Linked DNA regions of Homo sapiens: region 1 is linked to region 2. The links come from fine-mapping of genetic effects on gene expression. Tissue or cell type: whole blood. Region 2 holds a variant in brackets; the other region holds the start of a gene. All regions are shown on one strand. Distances are from middle to middle.

Region 1 (5,149 bases), 120 kb after region 2:
CTATTTTTTTCTGCTGATTTGCTACTCCTCTCATGAAACTAGTTTTCCATAAATGTATGTGCCCATTCTGTTCCTTGAGTCTGTTGATTCCTGCACCAAATATGACAATCAACTGACTAGTGATTCTTGACCCCACCTTGTTTCTCAAACACATTTACCACATTAGCTAATTTCTTCCATTACATCATTACAACCACCTCAGGACTCTACATTGCGGGACATGAAGAAGGATGCACAGACTACAGATAAAATGCTGAAGAGATTAGTGTTAAGCAGCAGAATACAGTTCATCTATTCCAGGACAGAAGACAGAGTCAGCCGCCAACCATTTGATTTGGAAAACAAAATTTCAAATTAATTAACCTTGTTTCAGTGAACTACTCCAGAGAGCATTGCCTAACTGACTGGGAAATTAAATATTCATTCTGAATATCTGCAATTTGATCATAGAAGAAACCAGGTATAAGAGGAGGATAGATTAGAGCAAAGCCATCGTTACTGATGGGGAAGAAATGCACTTTTTGAGTTTTATTCTGATATGATTGCTGAGCTGAAGCCAGAAGGAAGATGATACCTTTGTGCATACATGGGTCTCCAGTGAAGTATGTGGGTCTTTTTGGTGCCAATCAATCAGGAGAGAGAGTTTCAAATCTGGGACCTGAGACTTATATAACAATAACAGGTCAGAATTTTATAGAAAGGGAACATCTATCTCCATATGGACTATTTTCATTTTATTATTTTGCTGCCTTGGGAGAATCTAGATGAATGTGAGGATATCCTGGGCTGGAGAGAAAAAATGGCTCTTGCCACATGAAGGCAGGCCACAAGATAGGTAGAGAAGTAACATGTCCAAATGAACCCACTATTTTTGTGTCCCCAAATCTGCTGCTCTTTCAATGTTCCCATTCTCAGCAATGGCAGCACTGTCTGCCCAAATGCTAGACTGCCCAAGCCACATGCCTGGGCACCATCCTTGGAGATGAGTCAAGTACAGTAGATTCTATTACCTAGATCTCCCATCCCCAAACACATCTCTCCATCTCCCCTCCACTCTGTCCCCGCACACACTCTCACCACCAAGGCCACTGTCATCCTTAGAGCTGAAACTACAGCAATAGCTTTCTGGCTGGTCTCTCTGTCTTGAGTCATAGTCATAGCCCTCTTCCCCACTCTTGAAGCCAAAAGGCAAGTCTGGTAATGTCATTTTCTTGCTTAAAACTCGGTAATGGCTTCTCATTCTCCTGAGGCTACAGTCCAAACTGTTTAATATGATTTATGTGGATCTGGCCCTTGCTGACCTTCGCAGCTACTTCCTTGAGAGATTAAGAACCCAGACCATGAAGTCAGTTTTGTCTGGGTTCAAATTCCCACTGCCCCACCTATTAGCTTCAAAACTTGAACAAACTTCTGGACCTCTCTGTGCTTCAGTGTTCTCCCGTGTAAAACACGGACGGTCACAATGCCCACCTCACAGGATTGTCAGGAAGACTGAATGAGCTAACACAGGTAGAGTGCTCAGGACGGCACCTGGCACACGGTAAGCATTCTATCAATGTTAACCATGATTTTTATTTCTCCAATTCATTATGCCTTCTCCAGCATTCCGGCCCTTGCATCCACTGTTCTCTCCATCTCAGACACTCTTTCCAACACACTCTGATCATGCTACAAGGTAGTCTTCAGATGTAGGTAACAGCCCCAGCGGCACCTGAAAACTTGTTCAAAAGACAAATGCTCAGGCTCCACCCTAGACCTACTATATTAAAAACTCTAGGGCTCAACTCCAGCAATCTGAAGATTTTTGTTTTGTTTTTTGATAGAGTCTCGCTCTGTTGTCCAGGCAGAAGTGCAGTGGTTCCATCACGGCTTACTGCAGCCTGAACCTCCCGGGCTCCGGCGATCCTCCAGCCTCAACCTCCTGAGTAGCTGGGGCTACAGGTGTACCACGCCCAGCTCACTTTTGTATATTTTATAGAGATGGGGCTTCACCATGTTGCCTAGGCTGGTCTCAAACTCCTAGGTTCAAGCAATCCGCCCGCCCTGTCCTCCCAAAGTGCTGGGATTAAAGGCATCAGCCACTGTGCTTGGCCAGCACTCTGAGTTTTAACAAACTCAGCATTCCTCCATAGGATTCTGATGCCCAGTTAAGGCTGGAAAACCAAGGCACCATCCGTGATAAATTGTACTTAGATGCTTATTTTTCTCTATCCCCTGTTAGGCTCTACGTTCCACAATGGCAGAGAAATGTCCATCTTGGTCTGTTCACCTCCTTTGTAGGTGTTGACAAATACGAGCCATCACAAACTGGAAAGGGGTAAGCTGTATTTCGTAGGACACATCATCTAATTCTGTGCTCCTCTTTTCTGTTTCCCCAAATCAACACCCAGGTATTTCTAAAGGCTTGCCTAAACGTTCCAGCTTGTTCTCAACCTTGAAGCCAGGCTTAGGCCTAAGTTGTAAAGGCGGGAGGGGAGACCCTGGAGGTAGAGGGGCAAAGGCAAGATGCTTGCGTCGCAGGGGCCCTGCATGGCCTGGAGCAGCATAGGGGCCAAGATGGTCTGCGCTCTCCCTAGATTGGAGTTTCTCTCCTTCATCATCTTTGGAGGAAGCACAGATAACTGAGGAAAGTCTGTATCTGCACAGCCACCCGAACTCCTGCCTCCTAATAAACACCTCTGAGGGAGAGGAAACTCTCTCTCTCTCTTCTCTTCCTCCCCAGCACCCCTCGCCCCCCCACCGCCATTTCTCACTCCTCTACTCCCCTCTCTCTCCCTACCCACCTCTGACCCCTCCTCCAGTCCTGCCGCCCGGTAACAAAACCGGGGTTCCCGCCACACGCACCCGGTAGGGCTCAAGACGCTTTATCGGCGACAATGGCTGGCTGAATGGGAGGCCTGAGGTTCTGAAGGAACCGGGGTGCTGGCGACCGGGACCTCGAGGCCGCTGCTGGGGAGGACGCTGGCCAGCGTGCAGGGGGCGGAGGCGGGGCGTGCCGGGAGGCTCCCATCTCCCGCCCCGCACAACCCGGGCAGGGCCGCCGCTCCGCCGCCGCCGCAGATCCGGCTCTCACCCTCGGCTCCCGAGGCCCCGCGGCGCCTCCTTCTGCGGACTCTGCGGGACCCTCCCCGGCAGGCGCTGTGCCCTGGAGAAGGCACAGTGGCTCAGGCATGGCCGCGGGGACGGCGGCGCGGAAGGCAGCGCCGGTGCTGGAGGCCCCCCCGCAGCAGGAGCAGGTACTGGCGCGGGGGCGCGGGCGTGGGGGACGCCAGGCCGGGGTCCCGGGGCTCACGCTGGTGCCGGGCAGGCTGCACAGACTGGTCTCCAAGACCCCGGGCCCCACCGGGGAGAACCGGCCCTGGAAAGACGTGGGGACGGACGCATGACCTTCTGGAAGATGCCACCGTGCGGGGTGCCAGTCCCTCCTCCACTCCCTCCCTCCCCACTTCTGTGCCCTCCCCGCTACCTTCCTTTCCTCCTTCTGATCCTCTTCCTTCGCTCCATCCCTCTTCTCGCATCCTCGCACTTTCTCTTCCAGGCTCACCCCTTCCACTCCCGCCCTCCTTTGTGACCGCCTGTGCCCTCCTCCCTCCTCGGCGGAAGCCCCCAGAGCCCAGGGTCAAGGTCGTAAGCTGCGAGAGAGGGGAAGGGGTGTACTGCAGGCTTTTGGCTAGACCGCCCTGGTTCTCAAACTCGAGTGTCATCAGAATCACTCGGAGGGCCTGTTACCACGCAGACTGCTGGTCTGTGCCCAGGGTTTCTGATTCAAGATGTGTACCCTGATCGTCAGCTTGTCTTGCCTGGTGCTCAACCTAGCCCATTTCTGCTTCTGCTGGCGTCAATTGCAAACCCAATCTTAATTTATTCTTCGTTCATAGGACAATTCTTCTTAGGCTACATCCAGGTACCAGGAGGATTTGGGGGTGGAGGAGGGTAGGTCTTACCTGGAGGAACCCAAATCCCATCCGTAAAACGAGGACAAAAATAACTCTTAAGGGCAAAGATAACTCTTAAACAACAACAAAAATCACTCACAGAGCGGGTAGGAAGAGATTAATGTCCCAAAATAGGTTCAGGCAAAGAACTGTAGGATTTCTGAGAAGGGCTTGCTCCTGACTAACCCCCTTCTCCTCCAACCCGTGAGGGCGTGGCATTCGAGCTGGGTGTTGGGGAATGGACAGGATCTGACCTCATGGGCCAGAGAATTCTAGATGGAGGGAACAACAGTACCAAATGGCTTGGAGATTTTTTTTTTTTTAATATTGGGATGGATGGCCATGGGACAAGGCAGAGAGAGGGGACTGTCCACTCTGACTGCCAGAAACCTAGGGGTCAGGAATGCTTATAGCAAAAAATAAGGGTGGGCTAGGCTGTGGAGGGGCTTGTGTACCACAAAATGGGGAAACTTAAAATGAAACTCCATGACTTTCTTGCTGGTTTCAAACCCAGATTATCGAAAGGGAGGTTCTGAATTGATGAATGCATGCCAGGAGTGTCAGAGGATCTAGTACTGGTGGATTTGCTGCTGATCTTTGCTCTTCCTTAAGGCTGGCATCACTGCCTAGTCTGCTGCCCTCAGGAGGTATGGCCTCTCTGTTGAGGCTGCCCTAGGAGGGACTCACAGCTTTTCCCTTAATCCCATATGGCAAGACAGTGTGGTCCAGGAACCAGCAGCCAAGGCATTACCTGGGAGCCTGTTAAAAATGCAGTCTCAGTTCCCACGCCAGACCCACTGAATTGAAATCCGCATTTTAACCAGATCCCAGGGTGATTCATTTGCACATCAAAGTTCAAGAAGTGCTGGTTTCTTGACTTTACTAGAGCTAGGGATAAGAAAGTGAAAACAGAGATAGTTACTGACCAGCCTATTATCTGATAGCTTCCCTTTGGTTTGAACCTCACCCTATTTTATTTTCCTTCATCACCCTTATCACTACCTGAAGTATGTCTATGTGTGTATTTGATTGTCTAAGAACCTCCTTCAGCATGAAAGCTCCAGCAGAAAAGCCATGTGGTCTGCCTTGCTCGCTCCTGTATTTCCAGGACCTAGAACAGTCTCAGCAAACGGCAGGGCCTCAATAAATATTTATTGAATGAATAAATGAACAGTAACGTACAATCTTATGATGTAAGACCCTAACTCCAGCAT
Region 2 (5,149 bases):
TGAAAACTAGGCCCAAATTTTCTAGCCAACTTAAGTAGAAAGGGAATTTTATAAGAAGTTATAAAATGGCTTGCCAAGTAAATGAGAAACTTGAAAAGACAGACTTAAGGCTAAGCTTCCAGGAATGACAGAACCAGGCCACCAAGGAAGCCAATACCTCTGCCACGACCAAAATGCTGTAAAATCAGGAAGACTCCAGGTGAAATTGGAAACCATCACTTTAGATAGTGGACACAGAACCATGCCACCTTTGTCACAATCCACTCCAGCAAAATGTATCTTCTATCCTCTGCCTCCCAATAGCCATGAAGCCAGGAATAAGGCACTGGAGCCTCTACTACAGTTACTACAGAAAAATCAAATACTTTCATGGCCATTCCTTGCCACGAAAGAAACAGAAATATGAGTCTGGTCTCATGAGGTTTCATTTTATTTCCATTTTCCAAACCTCATACAGGTACCTCTAATTGAATGAACCTAAATTACATCCAGAACTCTGGAAAATGGAAAATGTAGGGATGCTGAGTTTATGCTAATGAGGTGACTCAGGGTGGGGCCCCCTAGATAGCCTTGGAATGCGGCTGATCACCAGAATGACCAAGTAATTAGAGGGTTGGAACTTTCAGTCCCACCTCCCAATCTCCAGGAAGGCGAAGGGTGGGCATGCACTTAAACTCCATACAAATTTGAATAACATGATTAGATGGGCTTCTGGTCTGCCAAAGAAGCCCGTGGAATTGCTGTGAGGTAGCACATCCTGGAGACAGCCTGGAAGCTCTACTGCCCTATCCATACTTTGCCCTCTACATCCTTTATAATTAATCAGTAAATGTAAGTGGAGTGTTTCTCTGAGTTCTCGTGAGCCATTCTAGCAAACTATTGAAGCAAGGAAGGGGTCATGGGAATCCCCAATATACAGCCAGTCAATCAGAAGTCCTGGATTTGCAATTGGCATCTGAAGTGGGAAAAGTCCTGTGGCACTGAGCCCTTAAGCTGTGAGGTCTGCACTAATTCCAGACAGATAATGTCAGAATTGAATTGAACTGTGGGACACCCAGCTGGTGTTGGTGAGGGAAAAACTTGCACATCTGGTGTCAGAAGTGTTCTGTGAGAGAGTATGGAGAAACACTCTACAGTATGCAGTTTTCTCAGAGGATGTAAGTCACTCCTTAACTTAGAAACTTCCTAAGCAACATGACCCTCCTGCTTTCTCTTCCTCCTTAGATGTGGAGTGGGGGTTATGAGTTGAGGTCCAGGGCCAGAATAGAGAAGCAATTTCAATCCTATGGAACCACAAGAAGAAAGCTTTCTTGGAGGGTTTCTTGGAGAATTCTGTGTTCTGCCTAACAGAATTTTGTTTAATCAAGAAATAATTCTTTGTGTGTTAAGCCTCTGAGGTTAGTAAATACAAAATGTTATAATTTTGTCTATCTTGACACAGATATGGATATGCAGTTGTAAAATGCTGATGTTTAAAAAAAAACTTAAAATAGGTGACATTCGTGGTTAGGCAGCAGGCAGTAGAAAACTGATATGAGAAGCTTTAAAGATAATCACTGTTGTCACCTTTGGTAACTGTTGCCTGCAGTAATCAGGGAAGTAGACCACGTACTTAATGCACTTGGTGGCCTAAGGGGGAACAGGTTAGAAAACAGAAACTTAGTAATGTGTGTTAGTTGTTATTGATTGTGATTGACAAGAAATTACAAGAAATAAATGTATTCAAGAAGGAATTGCCTGGTTTGCAAATAAGCCTTTCAGAAATGCAGGTGGTGTTGCAAAGATAGAAAAGTCTACAGTTTTTTCAATCCCAGATTTTCTTCTCCCAGAAATAGAGAAGGATTTTGAGAGTCAAGGGCCCACAGTGACACAAAGTAAAGACCAGCCTAAGAGTATGGTACTTTGTAGAACCCTTCAGAAAAAAAAAAAAGGAAAAGAAAAGAAACTCAGAGCAAAAATTAGTGCCTTAAGGATGTGGCCTTCTCATCCATTTCCCAGCTGGTGACCACTGTTACACAAAGAGAGAGAGATGGGGTATTTGTGAAAAGCAAAAAAGTCAAGTACATTTGAAAGTCATGGCTCAAAAAACTTAGATAGTGTTACTCTCTTATACAACTGACTAGAAGTAAATAGATGCTAATTAAGTAAG[T/C]GATAGGTGCTGAATGAGAGTGAGAATGTATTTTTTAATGTTATAAACAGGAAGCACAATAATTAACCTAACCTTTTCATGGATTCTATGTCCAGAGCAGCAGTTCTCTATTTCACCCAAGTTGAATGCTTAAGTGATTACAATTTCTCCTTTTATGCAGAGAATGAATAAATCATCAGTGTGCAGTTATCCACCCTCCCCTCCCCTATGACAAGGACTGAGCTACTATGTCTCCTGCACCTCTGATTAGCGTGTGTGAAATAGAAATGTAAATACTATACTTCAGATATATTATGAGTAAAATAGGCCTCATCAACTGGCCAAAGACCTCAGACTCAATGTATAACATTGCTTCTGCTGGGCGCAGTGGCTCACGCCTTGTAATCCCAACACTTTGGGAGGCTGAGGTGGGCGGATCACTTGAGGTCAGGAATTTGAGACCAGCCTGGCCAACATGGTGACACCCTGTCTCTACTAAAAATACAAAAATAAGCCAGGCATGGTGGTGGGTGCCTGTAATCCCAGCTACTCGGGAGGCTAAGGCAGGAGAATCACTTGAACCCGGGAGGCAGAGGTTGCAGTGAGCCAAGATCATGCCATTGCACTCCAGCCTGGGCAACAGGAGCGAAACTCCATCTCAAAAAAAAAAAAAAAAAAAGCAAAAACAAACAAACAAAAAAAACATTGCTTCCAAGTGAAAATGTACACTGAGAACCAAACATCGACCTGCAACAAATTTTGCAAATTAAGTCTTTTGGAATCTGTGCCTATTCTAGCTTTCCAGCTAGAAAAGAGGGCAGAGAGAAGAGGTGAGGGACAGGTGCAATCTGATGGTTCAGACAGAAGAAAGGAGTCCCTTCCTACTGATAGGAGCCACAGGAAGCTAGACAGGAGTCAGGACAAACATGACATATGCAGAAACTGGTGGTTAAACTGATGCATTTATGAAGTAACTTGGTTTTGAAAATGTGGCAAAATACATAGGAAGGCAAGCGAGTCTCCATCTCATCCAAATCTGGGAACCATAGACACATCGCCTTTTGTGCAAGAGTTAGAGCAAGACCCTTTCTCAGGGACAAATTAAAAAGTTTGATGGTCTCATAGAGAGGATGTTACTTGGAATCTTTACTGTTCAACTCACTGAGTCTCTCTTAGTCCTGCTGACACTTTAAATCAATGCTTCTAATAGAAATACAGTGCAAATCTCAAAGGTAACTTTAATTTCCTAGTTGCCATATTTTAAAAAGTCAAAAGAAACAGACAAAATTAATTTTAATAATATGTCTTATTTAACTCAATATATCCAAAATATTATTTCAAGACATAAGTAACATAAATATTAATATTTTATATTCTATTTTTCATATCTCTTCGCTCTCACTGGCTGTGATGCTCTAGAGTTTAGAGAAAAGCCCTAAAAGAATTGAGAGCTTTTGAGAAGCAGAAATTGGAATATATATCTTAAATGTGTCTCAAAAAACATGTTTTCAACATTTGAAAAGGGCTTCTCGTAGTTTTATTCAAATGTTGACTGACATGAGTCAATGTATACATCCAAATCAAAGTGATTAAACAAAATATAACCAAAATAGTGCATATCATATGACTCCATATACAAAACACAACACAGGTAAAACTAATCTATGCTATTAGGAAGAGGACAGTGGCCACCCTCGGGGAGGGGTATGACTTAAAGGAACACAAAAGGGCTTCTAGGGTATTGGTGATATTCTATGGCTTTATCCAAATGCTGGTTAGATGAGTGAGTTCAGTATTAAACATTTATCAAGCTGTTCACTTGTGATATGTGATAACTTAGTGCATATATGTATGTGTGTGTCTGTATATGCACATATGTATGTATAGACATATACACACATATATATATTTATAACACACAAGTATACCTTGGAGATATTGCAGGTTAAGTTCCAGACCACTGCAAAAAAAGTGAATATTGCAAATATTTTGGGTCACACAAACATTTTGGTTTCCCAGTGCATATAAAAGTTATGTTTATACTGTATACTGTAGCCTACTAAGTGTGCAATAGCATTATGCCTGAAAAAAACAAAGTACATACCTTAATTTTAAAATACTTTATTGCTAAAACATAAAAGCCAATTATCATCTGAGTCTTCAGTGAATCATAATCATTTTGCCAGTTTCACTTCCATATTAAAGGCTGATGGCCGATCAGGGTAGTAGTTGTTGAAGGTTGGAGTGGCTGTGGCAATTTCTTAAAATAAGGTAACAATAAAGTTTGCTTCATCAATTGACTCTCACAAAAGATTTCTCCACAGCATGTGGTGCTGTTTGATAGTAATTTGCCTACAGTAGAACTTCTTTCAAAATTAGAGTCAATCTTCTCAAACCCTGCTGCTGCTTTATCAACTAAGTTTATGTAATATTCTAAATCCTTTATCAACTAAGTTTATGTAATATTCTAAATCCTTTGTTGTCATTTCAACAACGTTCACAGCATCTTCACCAGAAATAGATTCCATCTCAAGAAACCACATTTTTTGCTCATCTATTCAAGTTTTATCATGAGATTGCAGCAATTTAGCCATATCTTAGGCTCCACTACTAATTCTAGCTCTCTTGCTATCTCACCACATCTGCAGTGACTATCTCCACTGAAGTCTTGAACCCCTCAAAGTCATCCAGGAGGGTTGGAATCAACTTCTCCCAAGCTCCTGCTAATGTTGATATTTTGACCTCCTCCCGTGAATCATGAATGTTCTCAATGGCATCTCAAATGGTGAATCCTTTCCAGAGGTTTTCTATTTATTTTGCCCAGATCCATTGAGGAGTCACTATCTGTGGCAGCTATAGCCTGACAAAATGTATTTCCTAGATGATAAGATTTTAAAGTTGGAATTACTCCTTGATCTGTGGGCTGCAGAATGGATGCTGTGTTAGCAAGCACTAAAACAACAGGAATTTCCTTTACATCACTATCAGTGTCCTTGGGTGACCTTGTGCATTGTCAATGAA

What was found. PIP is the estimated chance that this variant, and not a neighbour inherited with it, causes the effect.
Region 1: RNF175 starts here. The variant in region 2 is fine-mapped to the expression of RNF175 in whole blood (TOPMed, PIP 0.98).

What each region holds. Positions count from the first base shown.
Region 1 is chr4:153,757,884-153,763,032 of GRCh38, reverse strand. It overlaps RNF175 (ring finger protein 175), which reads left to right and starts at 3,009. Exons shown (of 9, transcript NM_173662.4): 1 at 3,009-3,236. The coding sequence starts at 3,171.
Region 2 is chr4:153,874,019-153,879,167 of GRCh38, reverse strand. All of the region lies in intron 3 of LOC101927947 (a long non-coding RNA gene), which reads right to left. Among named protein-coding and RNA genes, the nearest start is that of SFRP2, 88 kb to the right of the region's middle. The variant T/C (reference allele first, on the strand shown) is at 2,150.